Linked DNA regions of Homo sapiens: region 1 is linked to region 2. Evidence: fine-mapped expression QTL. Tissue or cell type: fibroblasts. Region 2 holds a variant in brackets; the other region holds the start of a gene. All regions are shown on one strand. Distances are between the middles of the regions.

The links. PIP is the estimated chance that this variant, and not a neighbour inherited with it, causes the effect.
Region 1: FBLL1 starts here. The variant in region 2 is fine-mapped to the expression of FBLL1 in fibroblasts (GTEx, PIP above 0.99). The same link has a PIP of 0.9 or more in T cells, esophagus mucosa, lung, ovary, spleen and thyroid.

What each region holds. Positions count from the first base shown.
Region 1 is chr5:168,524,627-168,534,718 of GRCh38, forward strand. It overlaps FBLL1 (fibrillarin like 1), which reads left to right and starts at 4,679. Exons shown (of 1, transcript NM_001355274.2): 1 at 4,679-6,008. The coding sequence starts at 4,879. The coding sequence ends at 5,883. RefSeq lists a silencer at 3,838-4,132 and enhancers at 4,986-5,527, 6,383-6,552.
Region 2 is chr5:168,475,561-168,485,652 of GRCh38, forward strand. No RefSeq gene overlaps it. Among named protein-coding and RNA genes, the nearest start is that of RARS1, 5.9 kb to the right of the region's middle. RefSeq lists an enhancer at 6,061-6,170. The variant G/C (reference allele first, on the strand shown) is at 6,076.

The DNA.
Region 1 (10,092 bases), 49 kb after region 2:
ATACTTTAAATACCGACTTGATCACTGTGCCTTATACATGTCACAAAACTTCTCATGTACCCCATACATTTGTACAAATCAAAAAAATACTTGGTCGCATTATAGAAATTTCACTGGTTAATGAGAGTACATGGGGTCATCTAAAGTAAAACAATTTTTTGCTTTGTTTTGTTGCTTGGTTTGCTTTGCATTTTCATACCAGTTTAATTACATAAATATACATGGTGCTTATAAAATGTAATGGATTGAAGGGGAGCACAGTTAAACTCACTGTAATTTTTGTGGGGATTTTAGATTGTAGGAGTTTGATAGCTTGTATATATATATATATATATATATATATATATATATTTTTTTTTTTTTTTTTTTTTTTTTTTTTTTTTTTTTTGAGATGGAGTCTCACTCTGTCACCCAGGCTGGAGTGCAGTGGCACGATCTTGGCTCACTGCAAGCTCCACCTCCCAGGTTCACACCATTCTCCTGCCTCACCCTCCCCAGCAGCTGGGACTACAGCTGCACGCCGCCACGCCCAGCTAATTTTTTGGTATTTTTAGTAGAGACGGGGTTTCACCGTGTTAGCCAGGATGGTCTCGATCTCCTGACCTTGTGATCCGCCCGCCTCGGCTTCCCAAAGTGCTGGGATTACAGGTGTGAGCCACCACGCCCGGCCAGAATTTTTTTTTTATGTATTGAGATGGGGTCTCACTATGTTTTCCAGGTTGGTCTCGAACTCCTGAGCTCAAGTGATCCACCCACCTCAGCCTCCCAAAGTGCTAGGATTACAGGCATGAGCCACTACGCCCAGCCCAAATTTCAGATTCTTATTCTATAAAATGAAGAATTACAGAGAATTTCTAAGGTGTCTTGTGGAAAGAAGACCTTTGCAAAAGTAGGCCAGCTAAGCTTTTTGAGCATTTCCTGAATGGCAGCCACTAATTCTACAGTGGGGAATGGAGTAAGAGTCTGAGCCACCAAGAGACGAAGTGTCCCCCAGCAGAAGTAATGGCCAAACAATAATGACATCCCAAATAAGGGATTTTAGCTACTTTCCAAGTCCCAGAGGCTACAAAAAGGGAGAAGATTCTCTTTTTCTAATTAATTAACCAGCTATATTAGATATATTATTGGGAGTTGACTAAGATTGTGAGTTTTAGTCGTGTTAGGAAGGAGGTATTATATTTTGTCTTGACGAGTAAATTTAAATATATGCACGCCAAACAGTAAATTTCACCTGAGGTGTTTGTGTTTGGTGCACTGATCCAGGTGTGCCAGCTGGCATTATGCAGTAGACACCTAGGTAAAAACATTTACTGTTCCCCAGTTATGGCACCCACATATCTCAGCTGCCTTTCAGCTAGGCAGGGCATGTGACTGGCTTTGGCCAGTCATCAGCCAGGAGGCTGAAGTGGGAGAATTGCTTGAGCCTGGGAGATCAAGGCTGCAATCCGTGGTGAGTAGAAATGATTGTGTCAAAGTCCAGACTAAACATACAAAAAGGTTGTGAGTTCTCTGCACTCTATTCTTCAGCAGTACAGTGGAGGCCCTCTTTTTTCTCATGTTGCAGCCACAAGATGTTGGGGCCTGAGTTCTTCAGTGGCTGTGTGGTGCAAACCTCCCGCTGACTCTCAGTGGACATAAAACATAAGAAATCTAAACATAGCTGTATTAATACATTGAGATTTTGGAGTTCTATGTTACTGCATCATAGCCCAACTCCTCTTGAGCAAATATAGCTGCACCTGTCACTGGGGTGGAGATCAGATCCCTACAGTCAGTCACCTTTGGAGGTGGACCATGGCTTAGAGAAAACAAGTTTCTTCATGCATGGATGCTTAAAGTATAATGAGAATGGAGATGGGGTTATAGAGTATTACCTCTGGTTTCATGTCAATCATGGCTAGTTACTCCTTGGGCAATTTGTTGGAATGGTTCTGTGAGAAAATAAGCAAAATTCCTCATGCATTTTTTAAGTCTATGGGAATGATTGATGTGCACTATGTCTACTACTGAGGCCTAGTCACAGATGTAATTATGATCATTACTTTAGGGCACATCTTCTGGAATAACAAGTCAATTGTAAACAAAAGTATACATGGTGCCAAGTGTGGAGGCTTGTGCCTAGAATTCCAGCAACTCAGGAGGCTGAGGCAGGAGGATGGCTTGAGGCCAGGAGTTGGAGACCAGCTTGGGCAACATAATGAGGTCTCATCTCTACAAAAAGTAAAAAAAAAAAAAAAAAAAATTGCCAGGCATGATGGTTTATACCTATATAGAAAGAAACCTGGCTGGCCACTGTGGCTCACACCTGTAATCCCAGCACTTTAGGAGACTGAAACAGGAGAACTGCTTGAGTCCAGGAGTTTGAGACAAGCCTGGGCAACATAGTGAGGCTCCATCTCTATAAAGAATAAAATTTTAGCCTGGTGTGGTGGCACACACCTGTAGTCCCAACTACTCAGGAGGCTGAGGTGGGAGGATTGCTTGAGCCTGGGAGATCAAGGCTGCAATAGCCATGATTGTGCCACTGCACTCAGCTTGGGTGACAGAGTGATACCCTATCTTAGAATAAAAAAAGAAAAAATAAAGCCCTTTTCTTTATAAATTACCCAGTCTCAGGTATAGAAACAAATTAAGACAGTGGATTAATGCCCCAGCCTCCAACCTGCAGTAGAACAATTCTGAGATGCCTTCCACACAGTTTCTCAGAATACTCACAGCAATTGAGCTCCCATTGTCCACTGTGGTCATCTACTCATTAATCTACCCTCTTTTTTTTTTTTTTTTTTTTTTTGAGACAGGGTCTCCCTCTGTCACCTAAGCTGGAGTGTAGTGGTGTGAGTTCAGCTCACTGCAGCCTTGATCTCCCAGGCTCAAGCGACCCCTCCAGCTCAGCCTCCTCAGTAGCTGAGGTACTACAGGTACTACAGTGACTACAGGTACTACAGTGACTACAGGTACACACCATGACACCTGGCTAAGTCTTGTTTATTTTTGTAGAGACAGGGTCTTGCTATCATGCTAGGACTGGTCTTGAACTCGTGGGCTCAATCAATCCTCCCACCTTGGCCTCCCAAAGTGCTGGGATTACAGGTGTGAGGCACTGTGCCCAGTTCTTTCTTAACCTTTCTATCTTCTCTATCTCATTTTTGCCTCCCCAACATGTGCTTCCTGGGATCACCTCACAAACCAATTGGACTCAAGGCTTTGTCTCAGGATCTCTATTATTCAAGGTTCTCCAAAGACACAGGCCTGTAGGATATATATATGTGTGTATATATAGGATATATATTGGCTCATGTGATTGTGGAGACCAGCAGGTCCAAAATCCGCAGGGCCAATGTCCCAGTCCAAAGGTTGTCAGGCAGAAAGAGCTGATGTGCCAGTTGAAAGGCCCTTGGGCAGGAGAATTCTCTCTTCCGTGGGGAAGGTCAGCATTTTGCTTTATTTCTGCCTTCAACTGATTAGATGAGGCCCAGCCACATCGTAGACGGCAATCAGCTTTACTCAATATACCAATTTAAATGTTAATCTCATCAAAAAACACCCTCACAGAAACACTCAGAATACTATTTGACCAAATATCTGGGCATCCCATGGCCCAGTAAAGTTGACACATAAAATTAACCCTCACAGACACCAAGTGTAGTTCATCATTTTGGAAAATATTCACCTTATAGCAAGAATGGAAACCTCTAAGTAGAGTATTTTATGTGAACCATTCAACCTCAGGAATCATACATTTCACTCACTGATCCCTTGTTCACATTCCAGTGTATAAAACTCTGGTCCCCATTAAGGAGACACTCCAGTCCTCAGGGAAAATCAGACCTGGCACTGTCGTCCATGAGTATGAGACGGGAAGAGCTGTGGTCCAGGATGGAACGGAAGTCATACTGCACATACCAGGTGTTCAGTAAATGCTCCGATCTTCAGGTGCGCGTTGTCTCTCTCTCTCTCTCTCTCGAGTAGACACTTAATTCAACTAACGGGAGGCTGGCCAGTTGTTTCACCACCTATCCTACTTTCCCCAGCTCTTGTGTGGTTCCCAAAGCCCCTAGCAGTAGCCAAAACGGGGGCCCCAACTGCTGTCGCTGTCCCTGGTGCTGACTAAACCCTAAAGCCTCTGCGTTGCGGCCTTGGGGCCATTGGTGGTGCCGAGTTATTCTTTTATTTTCTTTCTGTTCTTTTCTTTTTTTCTTTTCTTCTCGTTGCTGCCCTTGGTGCTGCCCAATTATTCTTTTCTTTTCTTCTCCTCTCCCTCTCTCTCTTTTCTTTCTCTCTCTTTCTTTCTTTTTCTCTTTTTCTTTCTTTCCTCAAGAAAATGCTGCAGATTTAGAGAGTGACTTTGAAGCATAGACTAGACTTCGAGGATGAACATGACATTTTGGCTCTCTGTGTATCCCCATTCACACTGAAGAATCAACAACACTTCCTTGCTGATCAATAGTCCCAGAACTGGTGGCACAGCCAGGACCGACGCTGATGCTTACCTCCCCCTCTCCTGCAGCAGAGACGCCCCCGTCCCTGTGGCCCAGGGAAGTGCCAGGGATCCCTGGGAAGGCGGGAGATGGGGAAGGGGCAGGGTGAGCGAAGAGGAGCAGGCTGCGTCTGCACGCGGGCTGGGAAGCGGGGCTTCCGGGCCGCAGGGTCGCGGGGACGGGTGTGATGCAATCGCGCCACAGCCGCTGCGTCAAGGGGCGGCTCCGGGATGCGGGCACTGCGGTAGAGCCCGTCCTGCCCCCGCCGCCCGCCGCCCGCCGCCCGCCTCCGCTGCTAAACCCGCGGACAACCGCCGGGACGACCACCCAGAGCCACCAGAGCCCCCTGACACCCGCCCCGAGGCACCGGTAACCCACGGCACCCGCCCCGGTGCGTGCCATGAAGTCGGCCGCGAGCTCGCGCGGGGGCGGTGGGGGCGGCCGCGGGGGCGGCGGCTGGGGCAGCTGGGGCGGGGGCCGAGGCGGCGGCGGCGGCGCGGGCAAGGGCGGCGGGGGCGACGGCGGCGGCCAGGGGGGCAAGGGCGGCTTCGGGGCGCGGGCGCGCGGCTTCGGCGGGGGCGGCCGGGGCCGGGGGCGCGGCGGCGGCGACGGCAAGGATCGCGGCGGCGGTGGACAGCGGCGGGGCGGCGTGGCCAAGAGCAAGAGCCGCCGCAGGAAGGGCGCCATGGTGGTGTCGGTGGAGCCGCACCGGCACGAGGGCGTCTTCATCTACCGCGGGGCGGAGGACGCGCTGGTCACGCTGAACATGGTGCCGGGCCAGTCTGTGTACGGCGAGAGGCGCGTCACGGTGACCGAGGGCGGCGTGAAGCAGGAGTACCGCACGTGGAACCCGTTCCGCTCTAAGCTGGCCGCGGCCATCCTGGGCGGGGTGGACCAGATCCACATCAAGCCCAAGTCCAAGGTGCTGTACCTGGGCGCCGCGTCGGGCACCACCGTCTCCCATGTCTCCGACATCATTGGCCCAGACGGCCTGGTCTACGCCGTCGAGTTCTCCCACCGCGCCGGCCGCGATCTGGTCAACGTGGCCAAGAAGCGCACCAACATCATTCCGGTCCTGGAGGACGCGCGGCACCCGCTCAAGTACCGCATGCTCATCGGGATGGTGGACGTGATCTTCGCCGACGTGGCCCAGCCGGACCAGTCCCGCATCGTGGCCCTGAACGCCCACACCTTCCTGCGCAATGGGGGCCACTTTCTCATCTCCATCAAGGCCAACTGCATCGACTCCACCGCATCCGCCGAGGCTGTGTTTGCTTCTGAGGTGAGGAAGTTGCAGCAGGAGAACTTGAAGCCTCAAGAGCAGCTGACCCTGGAGCCCTATGAGCGGGACCACGCTGTGGTGGTCGGGGTCTACCGACCTCTTCCCAAGAGCAGCAGCAAATAGCACCCAGCTCAGGCTCGCCTGCCATCTCCCCAAGGCTGCGTTGTGTTTGCTATTATTTTCTGTGTGTTTTCTTTGTGAGTGTTTTGTTTTGTTGTTTTTCTATTAAACTGCATAAAGAAACGGCACCTATCTGTATGGTGATGCCAGGCTAGGTTTTGCTGCAGTAACAATCAACCCCCAAATCCCAGTGGCCTAAACCGGCTGGTATAAGGGGCCCATCCAGCAGTAGCCTGGGAGCTGTGCTCATTCTAATCACTCAGGTCTCCAACTCCCCAGGGCCCCATTTTCACACATGCTCCCCCCATCCCTAGGGCAGAGGAAAGAGAGCTGCGGAATTGCTAATAAAAGCTTTTAAATGTCCCCTTGGAACTGATGGGGCACTTCTGCTCACATTTGGCCAAGTCACATGACCCAGCCTGACTCGGGAAAAACACTGAATGTTGGTGGACAATAATATAGTCAAACACACCAATCATCTGACTCACAGCCAAAGTCTTAACCACAATAGGTTTTTAGTATTTTACTCTTCAACTAAGCCCTTTTGCATTCACTGTTAAAGTGAATAATAAATAAATGTTAAATTTATTCCTCACACCAGCCCTGAGATGGCTTTGTTAGCACTTGCATATTACATGTGAAGCAACAGGGCTTCTGAAGGTAAACTATTTTGCCCAAACGTACATAGCCAGTAAGGAGGTAGAACTTAAATGCCAGTCTTCGGGGCTCTAAATCCATTGCTGTTTCCTCAGCACCAGGGGGATCTTGTCTCTGGTCCCCAACCCCTATGGCATGTGCACAGGGACACACTTAGAGCAGGGCCCTGTGACCTTATTGTGTTCTTTCGCCCTCCCCTGTCCCCCCCGGGCTACCCCTTTGTTTGGTTTCACAATAGCAAAACAAGATGCGGGGCAGATGTGGGTCTAGCTAGCAGACTGTCTCTACTACAGGGCATAACATACCCAAAGTGGTATCACCAAGTGTCTGCAGAACAGGCAGACAAATTACTCCCAGAAAGTATCTGTCTTTGCAAGGCATGTCCTGCACTTCCCAAGTTGCTGGTCTCAGTACCTCGCAGTCTCTCTCCAAAGCAGCCCAAAGGGAAGGGAGAGTGGGTAATCCGAGGAAAGCTGAGAATGCCCCAAAGGCCCAGTAAATCCCTCCAAGCCAGACTTTTCATTCATTCATGCATGCATGCATACACACTCCCAACTGCCAAAAAGACCCACATCAACATTTAGTCTTTGAATGATTGCTCACTAATGTATCATTTGGAGGGTGGATTTGCCTTTCTAAAGATGTGCTTGGGCAGCAATTGTGGTTAGTCTGCTTTTTCTGAGGGCATACTTCTTGAACAACAACAAAGGATAAATCAGACTTTTTATTTTTGTTTTATTTTATTTATTTTATTTGAGACAGGTCTTGCTCTGTCGCCAAGGCTGGAATGCAGTGGCGCAATCATGGCTCACTGCAGCCTTGAACTCCTAGGCTTAAGTGATCTTCCTGCCTCAGCCTACCACACCTGGCTAATTTAAAAAAAAAATGTTTGTGGAGAAACAGTGTCTCGCTTTGTTGCCGAGGCTGGTCTTGAACTCCTTGCTTCAAGAAATCCTCCTGCCTCAGACTCCCACACTGGGATTAGAGGCGTGAGCTATGGCACCTGGTCCAAATCAGACTTTTGAAAAGGCTGCCACTCTTTCACCACTCCCCCATCCTACGCCACCCCAAAATTCAGAAAGGGAATTACAGTTCAGATGTATCAGCAAGACTGACTCAGGAAGAAGAGAGTGAATGCCGTACATGTCTATTTCCATAAACAATGGAAATCTTCATTACAACCCTGCAAAGCCAGGATCACTTTTCCTATTTAGCATATAAGAACACTGCAGTTCAGAGATGAAAGTGCCTGGTTTAAGATCCCCCAGAAAGGCTCACAGCCAGAAATCACAGCTTTGTTAGTCTGACTCCAAAACCTATGTCATTTTCACTGAAGTCTGTGCTGGTTCTGTTGCCTTGAAAAGCCCTCTCTCCAATCCTAGGCTAATTTATTAGTTGCTGTGATGAAGCCCTGAGGCTGGGGTGGACTCCCTGGGAACAGGAACTGTTTCCTCACTAGGGGAAGACAGAAGCAGCTGGGTACTCAGGAGGGAGGGGCTCTGCAGCAGCTGAGGCCCATGACCCAGCCCCTCCTCAGAGCCAGATGGGCTCCATAAAGGAGCTCTTGATTGCTCCTTAAAGGTTTTTCCCCCCAGCATGGGGGATGAAGCAGGGGAAACTCTACCTCCTTCCTTGGCATGGGAACTCCCATTCCCTGCCCCTCCTGCCGCAAGTGAAATTTAAAGTCATGTCTGAAGCTTCTCAAAGAGGGAACCATTCATGAGGAAATGGCAACAAAACAATCTCCTGAAGAATTTCCCTGCATTGCAGATGAGTTCCTGAGCCAATGGAATGACATGGTGAGTACCAGGAAAAATATAGGAATAAGGGCCAAGGGAATACAGGAAGGGAGCTGGAACCTGGTTTTAGAGGATGATGGCAGGGAAAAGAATGGGACTATAGTCTGGGCACAGTGGCTCATGCCTGTGATCCCAGCACTTTGGGAGGCCAAGGCACATGGATAACTTGAGTCCTTGAGTCGAGACTAGCCTGGTCAACATATGAAACCCCATCTCTACTAAAAATACAAAAAATAGCTGGTGGCGGGCAACTGTAATCCTAACTTCTTGGGAGGCCGAGGCAGAAGAATCGTTTGAACCTGGGAGGTGGAGGTTCCAGTGAGCTGAGATCATGTCACTGCGAGACTCTGTCTAAAAAAAAAAAAAAAAATTATCGGACTGTAACTCCAGTGGGCCTTGGGTCCCAAGAAACCTAGAAGTAGCAGTGACCCTGGTTAACAGACCTGCTCAGAGCCAGGAATGCTTCAGTGACTATCAGCTTGGGTTCCAAGAAGCCTTTACATTTGGGTCTCTAGGTATATTAGTCTTCTCAGGCTGTTGTAACAAAATACTACATGCTAGGTGGCTTAAACAACAGATACTCATTTTCTCACTATTCTGGATGGAGGCTAGAAGTCCAATATCAAGGTGCTGGAATTCAGTTTCTGGTGAGGACTCTCTTCCTGGCTTGTAATCGGCCACCTTCTTGCTGTGTCATATATGTGGCCTTTCCTCTGTTCACACACAGTGAGAAAGAGAGAGCTCTTTGGTGTTTCTTCCCCTGTTTAGAAGGATACCAATCCTGCTGGATTAGGATCCTACTCTTAGGACCTCTTTTAACCTTAATTACCTCCTTAGGGCCCTATCCCCAAATATAGTAACACTGGGGATTGGGGCTTCAATTTGTGAATTTTCTGGGACACAATTCGGTGCATAACCCTAGGGTTAGATGAGAATGTTCAGCTAAAATGACTGTCTTACTGGATTGTGAGCTTTGGCTGAGGAGACCAGTGTTTAATGTGAAAATACCTGCCAACAGCCTGGCACTAAGTGCTCTGCCTGTTTTTTTCCCCCCACCTCTTACTGTCAATAGAGAATAATAAGGTGGCTGAGAATTAAGTTTAAGACCGGGCGTGGTGGCTCACCCCTGTAATCCTACAACTTTGGGAGGCTGAAACGGGCAGATTGTCTGCGCTCAGGAGTTCAAGACCAGCCTGGGCAACACAATAAAACCCCATCTCTACTAAAATAGAAAAGAAATTAGCTGGGCATGGCGGCGTGCACCTGTAGTCCCAGCTACTTGGGAGGCTGAGGCAGGAGAATTGCTTGAACCTAGGAGGCAGAGGTTGCAATGAGCCGAGAATGCACCACTGCACTCCAGCCTGGGTGACAGAGTGAGACTCCGTCTCTTAAAAAAAAAAAAAAAAAAAAGTTTAAAACGGGCCCAGCACAGTGTTCAGGCCTGTAATCCCAGCACTTAGGGAGGCTGAGGCAGGAGAATCGCTGGAACCCAGGAAAGTGGAGGTTGCAGTGAGCTGTGATCACACCACTACACTCCAGCCTGGGCAACAGAGCAAGACACAGTCGAGGTTGCAGTGAGCTGTGATCACACCACTGCACTCCAGCCTGGGCAACAGAGCGAGACACTGTCGAGGTTGCAGTGAGCTGTGATCACACCACTGCACTCCAGCCTGGGCAACAGAGCGAGACACTGTCTCAGAATAAATAAGTAAATAAATAAAAGTTTACATAAATGCCAGGGGTTGCCTTGGAGTCG
Region 2 (10,092 bases):
GTCATGAAGAAGTTCCCTCTGCCTTAATCCTTACAGGCAAAAAGGTAGCCTGAAGGAAACTGTCGTTAACTACGCAGTTATTTTTCTATTATTCTATTATGTCCCTATCTTATGAGAAAAGTAACTTTGAAAGGACTAATACATCCTGTTCTTAGCTTCTGCTTCCTTCAGGCCTTCTCTATGAAGCCAGCCTATTCTGCTCAGCGCTTTGGAACACTGATTCTATTTCATGGACCGAAGCATTGCCCAATTGTAGAATTGCAATAAAGCCAACTGAGATCTTTAAATTGGCTATAATTCATCCTTTGGCAATACAGTAAAAAAAAAAAATTCTCACAATTCTGTAGAAGGGTATGAGATATACAATAAAAGACACCCCCACCCTCTGCAATCTACCACTCACAGTAGTTTATCTGGTGGTTTCCACTTTTTAACAATGGTCTGGGCCAGGTGCAGTGACTCACTCCCGTAATCCTAGCACTTTGGAAGGTCGAGGCGGGCAGGTTGCCTGAGCTCAGGAGTTCAAGACCAACCTGGGCAACACAGTGAAACCCCTGTCTCTACTAAAATACAGAAGAAATTAGCCGGGTGTGGCGGCATGCGCCTGTAGTCCCAGCTACTCGTTTGGCTGAGGCAGGAGAATTGCTTGAACCCATGAGGCAGAGGTTGCAGTGAGCCGAGATCATGCCGCTGCACTCCAGCCTGGGTGACAGAGCGAGACTCTGTCTCTAAAAAAATAAATAAATAAAATTTAAAAATAAAATAATGCTCAGTAGGCCAGGCACGGTGGCTCATGCCTGTGATCCTAGCACTTTGGGAGGCCAAGGCAGGTGGATCACCTGAGGTCAGGAGTTTGAGACCAGCCTGGCCAATATGGTGAAACCCCTTCTCTACTAAAAATACAAAAATTAGCCAGGCGGGGTGGTGTGGGCCTGTGGTTCCAGCTACTTGGGAAGCTGAGGCAGGAGAATTGCTTGAACCTGGGAGGCGGAGGTTGCAGTGAACCAAGATTGTGCCACTGCACTCCACCTCTGGGCGATAGAGTGAGACTCTGTCTCAAAAATAAATAAAATAAAATAAAAATGGCCTGTATTATTTTTATTCATCATCTTCAGTAAGACCTCTCCACTCATCACCATAAAGATGAGGACATTATGGCACATACTTACCCTTTCTCCTTCCCAGCCACAACTTCTAATTTTTCTTAGTTACATTATTATTTTTATATAGTTTAAAAAAGGGTATCACATTTACGCACTGCTCTGTAATCATGTAATCCTAAAGCTTCCTCTGCTGTGAGTTGATTTAGAAAGTTAAAAACTAGTAAACAGCATTTACAGATTGATGGGGAAATCAACATTATTCCCTATGGAAACAAGTAGTGTGTGATCAGAGCTGGGTCATTAAAACTTTACCACTAGAAGGAAAATTTAAGGTTCCAGTCATTCTTTCCCTCCCCATAGCTTTTTTCATTTCTTCCTAGTCAGTTCATTTTCTCTTGAGAAGTAAAACCAAAATCCTAAGCCCCATGACGGACTGAATGGATGTCCTATCCTGTTGGCCAAGGAGAGCCCGGGACGGCATCTGGAGGTGGGACACACCTCCTTATACCCCCGCCCTCCCTAGCTTCCAGTAGGCATTCTTTCCTAAAATCTAAACAGAAACCAGACCTTTGGAAAGCCTGGCTTCACCGCTGATTTCCACCAACTCCCCCTCCCTTTTGCCATTTCACCACAACAACCAACATGCATTCCTTCCTGATAAGAGGCCACCCACCACTGAATGGTTCTGGCCAGTTTACAACGGATGTGCAGGGAGGGTTTTCATATCCTCCCCTTCGCCTTTTGACATCAGAGGCCCAGAAGCTCCACCCTCAGATCATGGTAAGGACACCATGTTTTGTACAGGGGTCCCATGAAGGGGCATGAAGCTCAGTTGCGCAGGCACACGTTTCTCCTTTCATAGATATTAGTGACCCCTCCTACAGCTTATTAAATATATATATTTGGCCACCTGCTCAGCACACATTCTTTTTTCCTCTGCCCTTCCCTCAAAGTGCATGTTTTCAGCTACTGGCTGGAGGCTACACTTTCCAGCCTGTCAGAGTGGCCACCTGCAGCATGCAACTCTTTATGTGAAATAAAGCTGTCCTCTCCAAATTTATGAACCTCATCATTCTTCTCTTGACTCTTTTTTTTTTTTTTTAAGACAGTCTCACTCTGTTGCCCAGGCTGGCGTGCAGTGGTGCGATCTCAGCCCACTGCAACCTCCACCTCTGGGTTCAAGTGATTCTCCTGCCTCAGCCTCCTGAGCAGCTGGGATTACAGGTACCCGCCACCACTCCCGGCTAATTTTTGTATTTTTGGTAGAGATGGGATTTCACCATGTTGGCCAGGCTGGTCTCGAACTTCTGACCTCATGATTTGCCCACCTCTGCCTCCCAAAGTGCTGGGATTACAGGCGTGACCCACCATGCCCAGCCACTTGACACTCTTAACCCATGTCCTCATTTTTAGACTCCTAATCCACCAGCAAGTTCTGCCAATTCTGTCTCTAAAATATATCATAAATCTATCCATTTTTTTTTCTGCTACCATTTTGATTTATCATTGCTGACCTGAACTTCTTGGAATTCTGAGATCAAGGTCCTGGCAGGTAGGGTCAGTGTCTTCAGAGGACTCTTTCCTTGGCCACTTTCTCCCTGTGTGTTCACATGGTCTTACCTCTGTGTGTGTCTGTATCTGCGTCCTAATCTCCTCTTATGAGGACACCAGTCATGTTGAGTTAGGGCCCATCCTCATGACCTCTTTTTTTTTTTTTTTTTTTTTGAGATGGAGCCTCTCTCCATCACCCAGGCTGGAGTGCAGTGGCGCGATCTCAGCTCGCCACAACCTCTGCCTCCCAGGTTCAAGTGATTCTCCTGCCTTAGCCTCCTGAGTAGATGGGATTACAGGTGCATGCCACCACACCCAGCTAATTTTTGTATTTTTAGTAGAGATGGGGTTTTGCCATGTTGACCAGACTGGTCTCAAACTCTTGACCTCAGTTGATCTGCCCACTTTGGCCTCCCAAAGTGCTGGGATTATAGGAATGAGCCACTTTGCCTGGCCCTCTTGACCTCATTTTAACTTATTACTTCTTTAAAGACCCTATTTCCAAATAGTCACATTCTGAGATATTGGGCGTTAGGACTTTAAGAACTTTGGGGGAATACATTTCAGCCCATAACACCACCCTTCTTTTTTTTTTAAGACGCAGTCTCGCTCTGTCACCCAGGCTGGAGTGCAGTGGAGCAATCTCAGCTCACTGCAAGCTCCGCCTCCCGGGTTCACGCCATTCTCCTGCCTCAGCCTCCCAAGTAGCTGGGACTACAGGCGCCCGCCATCACGCCCGGCTAATTTTTTGTATTTTTAGTAGAGACGGGGTTTCACCGTGTTAGCCAGGATGGTCTCGACCTCCTGACCTCGTGATCCGCTCGCCTCAGCCTCCCAAAGTGCTGGGATTACAGGCGTGAGCCACCGTGCCCAGCCAACACCACCCAACAAAAATTCACCACCCATCTACTCATCCAAACCCTCTAATGGTTCCCATTGTGCATAGAATAAAATAAAAAACCCCTGCCTTGACTTTACGTGGGTAAAGGGAAAGGGAAAGCTTTCCCCTTGGCCTCCTGAAGTTTCACTGGAAAATCAACTTGCAAAAGGCAGATTAGTGGGTAAAAAGGCATACAAGTTTATTTGCTGTATATTCACAGGGTATATACACAGGGTATTTACAAATTTGCTGTGTATTACTCAGTGCAACCACTGAGTAATTAATTGCTCACCCCGCAAGGTGGTGCCTAAGTGTATATGTCATCCTGGCAAAACAGATTATGGGAGTGGGGGAAGAGGAGTTCTGTTGAGGGGATTTTTAGGGAGAATGGATGGATTAGGGAACAGATATTAACGTGTACATTATCTTGTGAAAAGGTCTGTTCAAGTGTGGCTACACTGTTGGTTTTACAGGAAAGGGAAGAAAAAAGAGTCGTCCTTGATGTGCCTTACTTAGTGTGTCTGGATCTCAGGCAGATAAAGAAACTGTAACTTCTTTGGGAAAGATGGGGTGAGGGAGAAGGTCAGAGAAACCTTGAGTGTTCTTCGCTTCAGTATGTCAAAGCACCATATTTTGGGGTATCGGTTTCCGAGCCCCAACAACTTACAAATTCTTATATGCTCTCACTTTTGCCAATCTCTGCATCTGGGCCAGTACCCAATCCCCCCCTCCTTTTTTTTTTTTTTTTTTGAGACAGAGTCTTGCTCTGTCACCCAGGCTGGAGTGCAGTGGCACGATCTCGGCTCACAGCAACCTCCACCTCCCGGATTCACGCCATTCTCCTGCCTCAGCTTCCTGAGTAGCTGGGACTACAGGCACCCACCACCACGCCCGGCTAATTTTTTGTATTTTTACTAGAGACAGGTTTCACCGTGTTAGCCAGGATGGTCTCGATCTCCTGACCTCGTGATCCTCCCGCCTCGGCCTTCCAGAGTACTAGGATTACAGGCGTGAGCCACCGCGCCCGGCCTTTTTTTTTTCAAATGCGGTAATGTATCACTTAACGATGGGGACAGATTCTGAGAAATGTGCTATTAGGCAATTTTGTTGTGTGAGCATCAGAGAGTGTACTTGCACAAACCTGGATGGTAGAGCCTACTCCACACACAGGCTATATGGTGTAGCCTATTGCTCCTAGGCTCCAAACCTGTATGGCACATTACTGTCCTGAATACTGTAATGCCAACTGTAATGCAATGGACGTATTTGTGTTTCTAAACATAGAAAAGGTACAGTAAAATTAGGGAATGAAAGATAAAAAATAGGGCCAGGTGAAGTGGCTCACGCCTGTAATCCCAGCACTTTGGGAAGCTGAGGCGGGTGGATCACCTGAGGTCAGGAGTTCAAGACCAGTCTGGCCAACATAGCGAAACCCTGTCTCTACTAAAATTACAAAAAATGAGCCGGGCATGGTGGTGCATGCCTGTAATCCCAACTACTCAGGAGGCTGAGGCAGGAGAATCACTTGAACCAGGGAGGTGGAGGTTGGAGTGAGCCAAGATGGCGCTACTGCACTCCAGCCTGGGTGACAGAGCGAGACTCCATCTCAAAACAATAATTAAAAAAAAAAAAAAGGATTAAAAAAAGAACACCTGTATAGGGGCTTTCCATCAATGGAACTTGCAAAACTGGAAATTTCTCTGAGTGAATCAGTGGGTGAGTGGTGAGTGAATGTGAAGGCCTAGGATATTACTGTCCATTACTGTAGACTTTAAACATTGTACACTTAGGCTACACTAAATTTACTTTAAAAATTTTGGCCAGCCATGTTGGCTCACGCCTGTAAACCCAGAAGAGGCAGGAAGATCCCTTAAGCCCAGGAGTTCAAGACCAACCTGGGAAAATGGCGAGATTCCCATCTCTACAAAAATAGAAATAAAAAATTAAAAATGTTCTTTCGTCAGTAATAAATTACCCTTAGCTTACTGTAACATTTTTACTTTATAAACATTTTAATTTTTTAATTTTTTGCCTCTTTTATAATAACAGTTGTTTAAAACAAAACAACGTACAAAGGTACAAAAACATTTTTATAGCCTTATTCTAGAGGTTTTTTCCCACTTTTACAACTCTTTTGTTAAAAACTAAGACACAAACATACACATTAACCTAGGCCTACACAGGGTCAGACTCATCAAGGTTGTCGCTAGGTGATAGAAATTTTTCAGGTTCATTATAATCTTATGGTACCATCATCACATGAGCAGTCCATCATCGACCATACTCTAAACTTAGCTCCTGCCTCATTTGCATTTGCTAGTCTCACTGCATAGAACCTTCCTACTCATTCAATTAAGAAACACTTTTAGAGCAATGCCCTGTGTCAAGCACTGCTCTACATTGAGAAAGTGGCTCAGAGCAGTCTGAGGAATGTGAGATATGCAAAATTGGTTAGGCCCAGACAGGAGCAGGAGACACCTGTCACATCCTCGGCACCCATGCCTGGGGGTAATTGCTTAGAGGCATTTTGTTTTCTCTTTC[G/C]TTTTCTGTAATTTCAGACTAGCTGATAAATTACCCACAATGTTACCACAAGTTACACAATGTGACCCTCACCTATTATCTTCACGTTCCTGGGGTTTGTGGTACAAAGATCAATGTATAGACAAATGATAGCTTATTTTAATGAACCATTGTAAATTCTTGGTAAGCAGCTTAGGAACTGCATCCTAACTTTTTCATCTTTTTTTTAATCTTTAATCCACTTGTAACGGCTGCTAATCGGAGCATATATTCAGGGCAACTTGAATCCATGACTCCCAGGCTGTAGACCTCAACCCTGGCCCAAATAGACTCTCTACTTATATTAATTTTGCTTCAGTTTCTTCCTTTAGGTCAACAAGATGAACAGTCTTCCCAGCTGGGCTATACGTACCTCGGGGTACAGGAAGTCCTGTACAACTTACAAATTCCTATATGCTCTCACTTTTGCCAGTCTCTCCACCTGGGCTAGTACCCAATTCCCCCCTTTTTTTGGTTGGGAGATTTGGAAGTCCTGTACCCTGAGGTGCATATAGCACAGTTGGGAAGACCCTTCAAAGGGATCTGTGGGCCCAGATATACTAGGGAAATCCTGAATTTTTGTATACTCTTTTCTAAAATTGATTGGCCTGCAAACTCAGTTTTCCAATTCTCCTTTTACATCTCCCCTTCCACAAAGAAAAGCATAGCACCCTTTTCCATTGCCTGTCGTGGGTAGCGACTCTCTGGGGCCCGTGTCACGCAGGTGGTAAAAAGAATTCATCAATACAGTTGTAGGTAAAGAAAGGCAGATTTATTAGACAAAGCAGGAAAGTATGTTGCAAGGGTGCAACAAGCAAATCAGCAAGAGAGGAGCTGACTGCCAGGAAACAAACGTTTGCTCGGGATTTGACAGAATGGTGCTTGGGCTGTGTGTTAAGAGGGCTTTGTGCAGTACTGATAGTGCTGAGGTTGCAGTGAGCTAACTTGCATTTTTCTATCAGCTGAGGTGTCTGGTAATAGCTGGGTGCAGGAAGATGGTGAGTAATTTGCACAGGAGGACTATGTATCCTGAACCACGAAGAAAGGTAGACTTATAGCTTACCTGCCTTTTCTTTTTGCTTTCCTTCATCCTTACCAGCCCAACTCCCCCTCCCTAAATTAGGACTCCACATTGCCTGGGTGTAAACTAACAGGAATTGAACAAGGGACACTTCTAGAACATATTTTTCCTTTTCTTTTTGAAAACACTTTCTTTATATATATATATAGATATATTTTTTTATTATACTTTAAGTTCTAGGGTACATGTGCGCAACGTGCAGGTTTGTTACATATGTATACATGTGCCATGTTGGTGTGCTGCACCCATTAACTCGTCATTTACATTAGGTATATCTCCTAATGCTATCCCTCCCCCCTCCCCCCACCCCACAACAGGCCCCGGTGGGTGATGTTCCCCTTCCTGTGTCCAAGTGTTCTCATTGAAGAACCTATTTTTCCACAGGGCATATCCTTGAGCGCTAAACAAAGAGGGCTTAGTAAAATGATTGACTGTTTTTATTTCCTCCTTTATCTTGAAGATAGAGATCTATCTGCCTATCCCTTTGTCTATCCACCAGCTTGTCCATCCCTCCCTCCATCTTTCTCAGAACTTAGAAATAAGGTATCAGAGTGATGTAACCACCCAGTGGATTCTTCCTGCCTGCTGCACAACAAAATTGACTCATGGGCACCATGGCATTGCAATAAAGAAAGTTTAATTGACACAAGTCTGGCCACACAGTGTAAGAGACGGAGTTATTACTCAAATCAATCTCCCTGAAGGCTCCTAGGTTAGGGGTTTTTCAAATATAGTTTGCTGGGCAGTGGGGTAGGGTAGGGAACATGCTAACTGGTTGAGTTGGAGATGAAATCATAAGAAATCGAAGCTGTCCTCTTGTGCTGAGTCAGTTCCTGGGTAGGGGCCACAGGACTGACTGGTGGGTCCAGGTGGGGCCACCCGGTTGTCAGAAATGCACAAACCTGAAAAGACATCTCAAAAGGCCAATCTTAGGTTCTACAATAGTAATGTTATCTGCAAGAGTTATTGCAGAAGTTGCAAATCTGACCTCCAGAATAATGGCTGACAATTATTTAGAATTCAAGTCCCTCTCATTCTCATAGTTTAGTTGCCTTGCATTAGTTTTACAAGAACACTTTGATTTTGGGGAAGGGCTAATATCATTTCAACTATAAACTAAATTTTCCACAAAGTTAGCTTGGCCCATGCCCAGAAATGAGCAAAGACAGACAGCCTGTGAAGCAAGATGTCAAATTTCTCTTACTGTCATAATTTTGCAAATGCCATTTCAGGAACATGCACAGTAGTCCCCCCTACTTATGTGCTCAAGATATTAAGTGGAAAATTACCAATTCATAGGCTTAAATAACCAATTCAGAAATAACCAATTCATAGGTCTTAAAATGCATGCCATTTCTTGGTAGCATGATGAAATCTCCACCGTCCCATTCTGTCTTGCCCAGGATATGAATCCCCCCTTGCCCAACAAATTCATGCTGTCTACACTACCCACCCATTAGTCACTTATTAGCCCTCTGAATTACTGGATTGAAAAAACATAGTATATATATAGGGCTTGGTACTATTCACGGTTTCAGGCATCCACTGAGGGGTGTTGCAATGTATCTCCCACGGATAAGGAAGGACTGGTATATTAACACTTTTATTTGATTTACAAAATAAAGGATAGTTTATATAGTTCTGGGTAAAATTAATTAATTAATTTAAAAGGAAAAAAGATAAAGGCAAACTTTAAGCTTGTTAAAAATTAAGTAAAATAATTTGGATTATTTAATTGGACAAAGAGGACTGGCTTTGCCAATGAAACAATATGGCCGACATGTTCCATAAATTGGACAAGCTAAACTTGCAAATCCACAGTTTTGACGAAAATATAGTGAGAGCACTTATGAAACATCATGCCAGAAAATAATCCATTCCCAGAAGTTGTGAAAAGAGTTTTTAGATGTCTTTTTTTTTTTTTTTTTTTTTTTTTTGAGACAGAGTCTCACTCCGTTGCCCAGGCTGGAGTGCAGTGGCCAGATCATGGCTCACTGCAACCTCAAACTCTTGGGTTTAAACAATCCTGCCTCCTAAGTCTCCTATATAGCTGGGACTACAGGTGCACACCACCATGCCTGGCTAATGTTTTGTATTTTTGGTAGAGACGATGTTTCACCATTTTTTCCAGGCTGGTCTTGGACTCCTGGGCTCAAGAAATCTGCCTGCCTCAGCCTCCCAAAGTGCTAGGATTACAGACATGAGCCACTGTGCCTAGCTCGATGTCAACTTTTAAAAGTATACACTGGGATATGAATTTTTAAAATACTTTTATGAGGCACGGAAGCGAAAACGTTTAGAGTGCTACTTTCTAAGTTCTGGAGTCATAGAGAAGAGTGAACAAGATAATTAAGGTCCCTGCCCTCTTAGAACATATATCCCAGGTTTGCTGTTTATAATTTTAACTCAATATATATACAATGAAATATTATTCAGCCTTATAAAAGAAAACCCTGTTATGGGTGACAACATAGATGAACCTGGAGAACATTATGTTGGTGCAATAAGCCGGGCACAGAAAGACAAATACTACATTAGCCCATGTATATGTGTAATCTAAAAAATTCAGATTCATAGAAGCAGAGCATAGAATGGTGGTTGTCAGGGCTTCAGAGGTAGGAAAGATGGGAGATGTTGCTCAAAGTTACAAAGTTTCAGTTAGGCGGGATGAATAGATTCTAGAGATGTAATGTATATTGTATACTTGCAGTTTTCGTTTTCGTTTCGTTTTGTTTGTTTTTAAATAGAGAGAGAAAAGGTCTCACTCTGTCATCCAGGCAGAGTACAGTGGCATGATCATGGCTCACCGCAGCCTCAAATTCTTGGGCTCAAGTGATCCTCCCACCTCAGCCTCCTATATACCAGGGACTACAGGCACATGCCACCATGCCCGGCTATTTTTCCATTTTTTTGTAGAG